Regions from separate parts of the Homo sapiens genome. Here region 1 is linked to region 2. The links come from fine-mapping of genetic effects on gene expression. A gene starts in region 2. The other region holds a variant in brackets. All regions are shown on one strand. Distances are between the middles of the regions.

Evidence for each region. PIP is the estimated chance that this variant, and not a neighbour inherited with it, causes the effect. A credible set is the group of variants that fine-mapping cannot tell apart.
Region 1: its variant is the best candidate, but not a certain one, in a credible set for the expression of ATPSCKMT in transverse colon (GTEx, PIP 0.58).

What each region holds. Positions count from the first base shown.
Region 1 is chr5:10,169,625-10,175,002 of GRCh38, reverse strand. No RefSeq gene overlaps it. Among named protein-coding and RNA genes, the nearest start is that of ATPSCKMT, 78 kb to the left of the region's middle. The variant A/G (reference allele first, on the strand shown) is at 2,685.
Region 2 is chr5:10,247,743-10,253,120 of GRCh38, reverse strand. ATPSCKMT (ATP synthase c subunit lysine N-methyltransferase) reads left to right here and starts at 3,233. Exons shown (of 5, transcript NM_199133.4): 1 at 3,233-3,263. The coding sequence starts at 3,248. It overlaps CCT5 (chaperonin containing TCP1 subunit 5), which reads right to left and starts at 2,841. Exons shown (of 11, transcript NM_012073.5): 1 at 2,676-2,841. The coding sequence starts at 2,780. RefSeq lists silencers at 1,691-1,913, 2,244-2,383, 2,454-2,523, 3,274-3,333, 3,344-3,463.

The sequences.
Region 1 (5,378 bases), 78 kb after region 2:
GTTTTAATAGCAAATCAAGATAAATAAATCTGTTTAATTCACATGTTTAACTGGGAACTCCCATCCTTTTTAAAAATGGCAGTATTAGTAACTTTGAGGTAATTAATGATTAAATTTATTGACATTATCAATTTCTGTTCCTTGTATACAAGGCTTTCTCTGTGGGTTCATTTTTTTTTCCTGCTTGAATACATAGCTCTTCAGGAAGAGTTACCTGATGTGTAACAAGGTGGTAAAATGGAACATTTCCCAGCCATGAAGATGACACAAGCTATATTCCAAAGGACTGTAAAACAAAATGGCAGAAAACCAACTTTTCTACTCATTCAGATTTGACTCTATTCAAATTTGATTACTAATCAATGTCTTATAAAGAAGTTGGAGAGAACAAGAAACGGAAGAATAAAAATCAAATGAAGAGTTTTGAAGATCATAATTTACTTTTGGAAAGTGCTGTACCTTATTAAATAACTTCCTAACTGCAAATTAAGAAGCATTTTGAGAGGACTGCCAAAAAGAGTAGTATGAATGCCTTGCATTTTGGAAGATAGAATAGATGGTGACTGAGTCAGGTTGGTGATACTGCAATGCTAAGACAGGCTAATGTGGCTTTTGGCAACAAGGGAGAGGGCGTCTTTGGAAGATCATTACTTTCCCAGAGTTTGTGGAGGCAAAGGATGTTTGAATGCATTTTGTGGACTAGATATGGACTATATACCTAAGAAAGCCAGTGTGTGGCCTTTTAAGTCTTGCCCAAGAGGCCACATGGAGAGGAAAATTGTCTCCAAGAAGAGAGAAAATGGAGGTCTCACCATATTCCTAGAGACCAGAGAAGGGGTCTCCAGGAGTTCCCTTGATGAGCAGGAAAGTCTCATGTAGTTCTCTTGATGGACATGAAAGGGTCTTTACCTGCTGGAAAAGACTCATGCTCATCAAGGGAACTTCATGAATAGTTTTTATGGATGGCAGAGGGAAGTCTCAGAAGACCCCTGAAAGCACCATGACAAAAAGAGTCAGATATAAACACTTGCACAACCCTGAGAGCACAGATGCTAGCTCACTTCCCCATACTAGTCAGTGGGAGACTTCCTGCTGCCCTTGCCTCTTCTTTTTTCTGCTTGACCTGGAGGGATCAGAAGCCATATTTAGGGAGGAGGCATAGAAGTACAGCTGGGGAAAGGAGAAGAGCCTATGCTACCCTCTTCCTTGACTACAAGTTTTTCACCTGCAACACCCTGACCTGGGGGAGGGAGAAAAACTTCAACTGGGAATCAAACTTTGAATTTTGATGCTTATTGAATATTTAAAATGTGAAATTGATGTTTTGTTTTGTGATTTAGGTCTTTAAAAGTTTTTCATTCTCACAGTGAGCAGAAAATTCACAGGGCTGTTTTTATCCAGAAGTAGAAGGACTTGTCGACTAGTAGTTTTAAAGGGAAAATGAGAAGCAGAAATTAGTAATTTTCAGTTGCTTTATGATTATATCCCCACTTTTTTTTTTTTTTTGAGATGGAGTCTCACTCTGTCACCCAGTCTTGAGTGCAGTGGTGTGATCTCAGCTCACTGCAACCTCCACCTCCCGAGTTCAAGCAATTCTCCTTCCTCAGCCCCCTGAGTAGCTGGGATTACAGGTGTGCATGTTTGGATTTTTTAGTAGAGATAGGGTTTCTCCATGTTGGCCAGGCTGGTCTCTAACTCTTCACCTCAGGCGATCCGCCTGCCTCAGCCTCCTAAAGTGCTGGGATTACAGGTGTGAGCCACTGCACCCAGCCATATATCCCCAAATTTTGATAGCTCGTTATAATGGTTACATTTATCTGACAATACTTTTATGTTGCCTTCACTCTTGAGGGGATAAAATTCTAAGCTTTTTCTTATTACGTCAATGATATTGTTCCATTGTCTTCTGACACCTATTGCTGTTGAAGAGGACTCTGTGTCAGTGCAATTGTCATTTGCGTTTCTGAATGTCTTTGCAAAAGCAGCACTGACAGCCTTTGTTCTGGACCAACTTTTCAAGGCTGTTTGTATGGCAAGATAGGGATGCTGTCTTCTTCTGGAGCAAATGGTAGGTTTGCTCAGAGCATTGGAGGTTAGAGATAGTGTCTCCCTCAGAGACTTCAGCCCTCCTCAATGAACTGAAATTTTAAAATTTCTTTCTTGTGTGAGATAGGAGATGTTTTTGAGCCCAACTTTGTCTGTTTTGGCTTGGAGCATAGGGAATATCTTCTGGATAGGAATTTTACCAGATTTAGAGAAATAATCACTTTAATGAACTTGTCTTGAGTATGTATTTGCTTCCAGGTGGTCATATCCTTAAATTGCAGTTGGCATAGCATTTTTCTATTGATGATTCCAATTTACCAATACTAATTTTAATTTTAGCAGACATAGTGTGCATTTTTCTCCTCAATATTCATTTCAGAGCATTTACTCTATTTTTTTTAAATTGAACTCATCCAGCATTCCTTTATTACCCAATCTCTTGGGACATTCAGATCAGAAGTGATTCTCTTCCTAAAGCCATAGTGATGCCAGCCCCATTAAACGCTCCTCACACTTCCCTTTTCCCCTTACTCCTGCTAGATATGTTCCATTTCCCATTTTATGACTTTTCACTTCTTCAAACTGCCCTTTATTGCTAAAAGTTCCACATTGTAATTTGAAAAGTAGAACAGTAAAAT[A/G]TCCATTTCTGAATGATCTGCTAACTACTGGGCTGTAATTGTATTCAAAATTGATAGTTGAGCTAAAACTCTATTATTCAACTTGAGAGATATTTTTGTAGCTGATTATTCCTGCTTATGGCTTTACCTAGAGCTTTTATTTTACAGTTATATTTTTGTACCACATTAGATATTTTCCCATCTATTTGCACAAAGCTAGACAAAAATGTTAACAAAGACCTAAAAGTCATATGTTAAACCAGAAATAGTATTGGAATTAGAAATGATGCAGTGCATCATCTTTCTTTTATTTTTTTCTGAGATTTATTGCTATGGAGAAGATTCAACCCAAGAATATGATGGCTAGTACGTTTTACCAAATTCCCCAAGAACTAAAATTATGAAGCTAAAACTTCTTTCATATACTGACTGGAAATGAAAAGAAAAATATGTTCAGATGAATTACCTAAGTTAGAAAAATAAATGGCAACCGTACAGATAAAACATGTCTTACTTATGGATGTTAGATGGGGTGTTCTCCTAGTGAGAGCTGTTTCTTCATTTTAGTTCTTCATCTTTCAGGTTTTTTTTTTATAATAGTGCACTTTAACCCAGGAAAAGTTGGGCAACTGTGTGGGATGGCAGAGAATTGCTGAATATTTTTTCCTCTAATTAAAGGCAGGGGTTCTTAGCCTGGAATTCATGGAGGTCTGAGAGGTCCATAGGCAGGTTTTGTACACAAGAGAGGCGGTATCTTAGTTTATTTTGATGCTATGACAAAATGTCATGGACTGCGTGATTCATAAGGAGCAGACTTTTAGTTCTCACAGTTCTGGAGGCTGGGAAGTCCAAGATCAAGGCACCAGCAGATTCAGTGTCTGGTGAGGGCCTGCTTCCTGATTCATAGATTGCACTGTGGTATCTCCCTAAGCTGACCCATTAGATTCTCCAGGGCAGGCTTTTACCAAGCTGGGCCCATGGCCATCACATGAATCCTGTCAAACCTTGTGCACTTGTTTTTTAATAGGGGAAGAAGAGACTTCCTGGAATTTCTGGATTCTAGGACCTCCTTCCCTCACCCAAGACACCTGGATCTGTTCTCTTGAACAATAAGCACCATCACTTGTCATCAACCTGAGGGTATCATGCTGTCATCTCACTAAAGCAAGCACCCAGGCGGGTGACATCCCAGTATTCAGAACAAATTCCTGTCATCTGGGACATGGTTGGGCCAGTTTAATCTGTGTCACCTGACCAACTCATGCAGAACTGTTACCTCATGCTTGGAGATGTAGGAACAGGAAGAGTTGTGCTGGAGATAGCAGAACAAAACTATAGGGAAAAATACAGAAGCCAGCCATTATTATAAAAATCAACTCACCTTAAGTATCTATAATGGTTAATTTACATTTTCAATGTGTTAGAAGCCCATGTTACTGCTGGAACATTAAGACACATGATAGCTTGGCTAAGTGGTCAATGTTACATCTATTTATGTAGGTATAGAAAGCTCTAGAAGATATGCACCCATCTATTACTTGAGGATTTTTTTTTGAGGAGGCTAGACTTTAGAGGCTTTCCACTTTCTACTTTATTCACTTTTAATTTAATTTTAAAAATTTATAATGAGTATATTTTATTTTCTATCATCAGAAAAAAGTAAAAAATACGAAGACCAGATTGGGAAGGTGAGATTTCACATTTTTATTCCTGGAGCTTACCCAGGGGTGGGTTGCTGTCAAAATCTCTTGGGGGGTGTTTTAACACAAACATTCCTGTCTCCCTATCTCCTGTTGCCAGCCACTCCTGGTGATCACTTGCATTGCTCGGGTAGCTCGTAGCGTACCCAGGAAAGGTTCAACCTTATGAGAACATTCTGGAAGAGGTACTCTGGAGAAGGCTTTACCCTTGCTGGACCGCAGGGCATCATTTTACTTGTGGCAGTCATCTGAGGCTTCAAACAGCTAGCTGGACCTGTGGCTATCATCTGGCCATGTTCGATGGGTGGGCTCAGACCTGTGGCTATCATCTGGCCATGTTCAGTGGGTGGGCTCAGTGGAAACTTTGCCAGGGAAGATGAAGATTGTGGAGGAAACCGAAAGGACCAAGTATTCCTTCTCTCTACTAGGGGAGGGACGTCAAAGCAAAAACTGGGGAGGGGCCAAATTTGTTGGCTGACTTCAGCAGCCCTCTTTTTACTTCATGAGAGAGAGAATGTTGGACATAACTTCCTGAAGTTTAGGGGCATTTCAAGAAGATTGGGAAAGAGCACGTCTTTGGATCAGGAGATTTCTGAAAGCAGGATGCATGCTGTGGTGCCCCAGACTAACAGCTGGAGGACTCACTTGTCCCTCTTCTCCATGCCTGAGGAGAGCTGGACTAGGCAAGTCACTGAATTTTTCTGTGCCTCAGTTTCCTCATATGGAAAATAGGAGTAATAACAATTGCTGTAATGATTCAGTGCATTCATACGTATGCATGTAGCATTTAACAAGTATTCTCTGTCACTTTTATGATGTATGGTGGGAGGTTGTACAGGCCTGCTCTGGGACAACTAGACCAGGAAAGAGGAAGCATGAGTGCAGTGATGGCCCTCTTTACAGTGGCAAGAAAACCCTTGGTGCTGACATGGCCCCTCTCCTGGCCTCCTGGAGCCCAAGGCTCTGAGCGTCTGTGACCTGGGCAATGCTCACCCCATGCCACTCCATGCAGATG
Region 2 (5,378 bases):
CTCCTGACCTCAGGTGATCCACCTGCCTTGGCTGCCCAAAGTGCCAGGATTACAGGTTTGAGCAACCACGCCCGGCTGAAACTGGCCCTCTTAAGGAAGGTAAGTAGCTGTCAAAGTGATAATAAAAAAGTTACCTGTTTTTTTTTTCACATTTAGCTACCAAATTGAGTAATAGAATTATTATTATTATTATTTTTAAGGAGAAAGCAAGAGGCAGAAAGAAAAGGATGTAAAGAATTTGGCAAATAGGAGAGATCCCGAAATCCCGAGATCTATTTTGCCCTACTGCTCGGCAACGTGGAAAAAACCTTTTTCTTCCTTCTGCTAGTTCTGTGTGTTTCCAGAGGGAAGAGTATCAAACATCAAGGCATAATACATATTATGGATAAAACAGAATTATGCTGGCTGGCCTGGAAACTTAGCCTGCTCTGTTTTAGGTTACAGGATTTTAGAATATGATTCCTTCCTAAGCCAACTAATGCCTGCACCTTTTTTTTTTTTTTTTTGAGACGGAGTCTCACTCTGTCACCCAGGCTGGAGTGCAGTGGCGTGATCTCGGCTCACCGCAACCTCTGCCTCCCAGGTTCCAGCGATTCTCCTGCCTCAGCCTCCCAAAGTTCTGGGATTACAGGCGTGAGCCACCGCGCCCAGTCAATGCCTGCATTTTTAAGGTGAAATATTATACAGTTAAGTGTTAAACAAGTGAAGAATCTCAACAAAATACATATTACCTTTAAGGCTCTAAATGACCAGAGAGAAAGAACTGTGACCATTACCATTAAAACGTTCACGTCCTGGCCTATACATTTCTTTTACCGTTGCCTTCAATTTCCATATATTTTGGTTCTTCAAGTTAGCTGGACGTTCTATGAGGTCAGGGAGCAAGTGTATATCCCTAAACTGCTGAGCCTCAACACTCACAGGATGCCTACCAACAGCATCCAACTCTTTTAAGAGACTTAAACACCCAGGTTACTGTCCAAATGAGCTCCCACAGCAAAGAATGATCCGACCTCGAATGTCAATATGCCAAACTTGAGAATGCTGCTCTAGACCACTGGCTTTGACTCTGACAGCGGTGGCCCTGACCATGGTAATGCTCTTTAGTAGCAACTGCTCTTCAGAACAATTTCTCAACTGCTCTGGGCCCAAGTCCCCAGTTTTGTAAAATAACCCTGTCTCAGAGTGTGCGACTTCTGGGCACAAATGCATGCAGTTTGAACAAAATGGCTGATGCAAAACAACCTAGTTTTAGTTATGTTGTTACACCAGGTGTGTGTATTGGATGTTATTTTCTCTGCAGGTCCCTGTTAAGTGGAAAATAAAATGGAATACATAATACAATTAGCTTGAAACTTTTTCTTTCTAGAAAGGAAACAAATACTGAGTGCCTACCGTGGATCAACCACTGTGCAGCCCCTCTAAGTCACTCCATTTAATATCACTGTCAAGTCTTCAGCTTGACGGAGGCCTATCACCTCCCCCTGGAAAAGGAGGTTCCGCGAGGTTGTGTAACTAGCACTAAGTCAAACAAAGAGTCCATAGGGGAACTGTATTGTTTCTAACTTTGCGTAAGTAAACCTCCAAGACACTAAGTGAACAGGGACACCTGAGAGACCTAGTGGAATGGTCTATTATGAATTCACTTTATAACAAACCCTGAAGGCCCTCTCGGAGTGTCCCTTCCTCTGCATTTTCTGTCAACGTCTGGTGCTCAGATGTTTCTTACCTGCACCCCTGCCCTGGTTTCTTTAACCCCTCTGGTCTTCCTTATTCCCTTCGGTCTATCTCAAGCTTTGCTGCCTGAAGTGCAGCTCTACTGAAATTCTGCTCAAAACCCCCTCAATGGCTCCCCTTCTTCCCCAAAGATAACGTCGTATTTTCCATGTTGGGCATTCAATAGCTTCCACCTTCGGGAACTATTGTAAGTTAAAGAAGTCAGTGCTCCATTAAAACCGGATGGCTCTTCCATTCTACAACGTGCCATGCGCATTCTTGCCCAAGCCTTTACTTCTACCGTTTCCTCTCCCTAGAATGCTACCTCTCACCCCGATCTAAAGCTGTCCTCCAGCACCACGCTTATGTGCACCCTCTCCGTAGCTGTCCTTCTCACTGCACACCACCTTGTATTACGGTTATGTGCGTCCGTTTTTCACTCTTCGCTATTTTTCCTCAAGGGTGGGCAAAAAAGCACTCAGAAATGAAATACCCTGTTAAGTGACCACACCTTTACGAGTGACAAAGAAAACGGAAGGGCCGTTGCGGGTGGACCAGCGAAAGGTTAAGCAGCAGCGCCTTAACCGACAGGTGACAGAGCATCTCCCCGGCGCCCTCCCACTGGAGCGCAGTCCCACGCGGCCGTCAGGCTGGAGGAGCCGGGCGGGGAGGCGGTCCCGCTTTGCTCCCGCGGGCGACCGGACTGAGCGGCCCCACCCAGCTCCGAAGGGCGCTGGCGGCCCAGCCTGGCTGGCCCCCACATTCCGAGCCCAGGATTAGGCGCCGGCGTCTCCCGAGCTCAGTAAGCGGGCTGAGCGGCCGGAGACCGCAGGGAGACGGAGATTCTCGACCTTTCCGGGGAGCACATGGCAGAGCCGCTCCTCAACTCGCGCAGGCGCAGAGCCACGGCCTCGGCCACCTCCCCTTAGCCCACCGCGAGCAGGTCCCTGTGCCATTACCTTGAGGGCCTCAAGTCCCATAAGACGGGACTTGCGGTCCTGATCCTTGATGATGAGGAAAGGGCGCCCATATTCATCGAAGGCGAGGGTCCCCATGGACGCCATGGTGCAACAACCGGAATTACTTCCCCCCAACCGGCGGAGACCGCTACGGAAGCGAGAATGCACTTCCCTTTCTCGGGAGGGCCCAAAAGCTTGCGCACGCGCAGCACAAGACGCGCGGGACTTATGTTTCTACTGAGACTAATTTCACGCCAGACAGTATCTTCTGGAATCGGCGGCCTTCGGGAACTTCTATTATCCAGGAAGCCGGGGAGGGGGAGGTTTGAAGACACTTAGTGGAAATCTTAGGACACACAAGTCAAGAGCAGATTGAATTTGTCATTTTTTAAAACGTTACCACTGATAGTTTCTCGATAGTGGGTCCCAAGGAGGAATTCATTGACTTAAAGCACTATTTCTTTATTTCTTCGCACTCCGGCTCCGAGAAGATGGTAGGACCCATTTCCGGTTTTTTTTTTTTTTTTTTTTTTTTTTTTTTTTTTTTTAAAAACGCTGTTGGAAATCTCGCGATGGAGGGAGGAGGAGGTGAGGCTGGAGCGGCTTGGCGGGTTCCTGGGGGCATGAGAAGGGGTGCGGGCGGGCCGGGGGCTCGCGGTCAGCTGAGGTCTCCACTGTCGAGGCGGTGACCGGGTGCGGGCGGCTGCTCTGGCCTCCAGCCTGGCCTTCGGTGACCAGAGCTCCTGGTCGCCGCGCGGTGCCCGCGCCGGTTCTGGCGATCCTTGTCGGCGGGCGCGTTTCCCCAGAGACTGTTCTAGGCTACTTAGTGCAAGTGACTCAGCCTTTGGCACGATCTTAAGGAATAGGGATAGTGGAGGCACACTGATGGATTGGAATCGCAGTTCTGCCGCTCTTCCTAGCTGTGGCTTTGAGGAAATCCCTTAACTTCTTTGTCCCTCGGGTTCCCTGTCTGCAAAGTGACGGTGGTAACAGTAGTGCCTACTCACAGGGCTGCTGTGAGATTCAAGGAGAACGGTGCCTGGCAAGCTGAACACAGTGTTGGTAAATAAATTAACATTTTGCACAAATGGTTCAGTAACTTGCCACTGGTATACAGCTAGTAAGAAACAGTTACACAGCCTGATGCAATGGGTCCCACACTCTTTTTTTTTTTTTTTTTTTTTGAGACAAGACTGTAGCCCGGGCTGGAGTGCAGTGGCGCGGTCTCGGCTCACTGCAGCCTCCGCCTCCCGGGTTCCAGTGATTCTCGTGCCTCAGCCTCCCAGGCAGCTGGGACTACAGGCACAGAACCACCACGCTCGCTAATTTTTGTATTTTTAGTAGAGACGGTGTTAACGCCGTAGTGGCCAGGCTGGTCTCGAACGGCTGACCTCAAGTGATGTACCCGTCTAGGTCTCCCCAAGTGTTGGGCCTGAGCCACCGCGGTGCCCGGCAGGTCTCACTCTTAAGCCCTGTATTATGCTGCCTCAGAAAGATCTTGGCAACCGCAGCTGTCCTCTAAATCTCTTATGCTGCCTTCCTCCCCGCCCTCCAAGATCATGACTTAATATTTGATAGGTTTAGATTTATTTGTTGAGGGTTTCCATCCTTGCTTCTCCCCTACTGCCATGGGCAGGGACTTAACTAATAAAGTTGTATTATTCCCAGACTTTATTAGGCACTCAATAAGTGCTGAAATGAATACATGCACTATAACATTTGACCCTGTCCTGAAACTCAAGAACAGACTTGGCGACTGTGTTCCCATCTACTCTGGGGCTGAGGCAGGAGGATGGGTGGAGCCCAGGAGTTCAGTTTACAGTGCGCTATAATCGCGCCACTGCACTCCATCCTGGGCGACAGAGCGAGATTCTGTCTCTAAAAACAGGGAGGACTGACTGTCATGGGATGGTTGGTGATCTGTTAACTCTTCATGCTTGGCATACTTACGCGCTAGACCTTGAAGTGTTCTTCAAGGACATTTTAGATTTTGGAGTCAGGTCTTATTTCACGTTAGCTTTGCCAATTCAGTGTTTCCTCATTAAAAATGGTGACTTCTGCAATTCATTTGGCTCCTTCGATTGTTGTGAAAAATAGAATGTCCTATGGCATCCTCTGTGTAGTTGATTCCCTGTCAAAACACTGGGGAGTGAGAGAGGATTTTTCCTAATATCAATAGCTCATGTATGTCAAAAGGACACAAATGACATTAGACTAGTATAAGAAAGGCTTCTTAAGGACATAAGAATATATGCTAAAGGGACATAACATATGCTGTAGTTATTAAACAGGTATGCACATACAAGTGCACAATGAACAGTCCTTATGAGTTGTGACATTCTGATATAAGCCCGCTTTAAACACGTGGCTAGTTACTATTCCTAACAGGCTCCTTCTCTCTTCTTGGCCTTTTTCTTTTGGCTTGAACTTGGATAAGAACCTTGGGTACCTTATTGTACATCTGTCACTGCCTCTAGCTTCAGCTGATCCAAATCTGCCACTAAAAATTGAAGTTTTCAACCAATATTAGAAGTCAATAAGCAAGCAGGGCCCGGACACAGTAGAAGTTAACCTCATTCTGTGTTTGACTTTAAAGGATGGACTACTAAGTGCTCAATGAAAGTAGCCAGTGGCCACTGCAGCCATTATTTAATAGAATGGCTCCTTGTTCCAAAGAACACCTGAAAGAAAGTTCTTGCCATT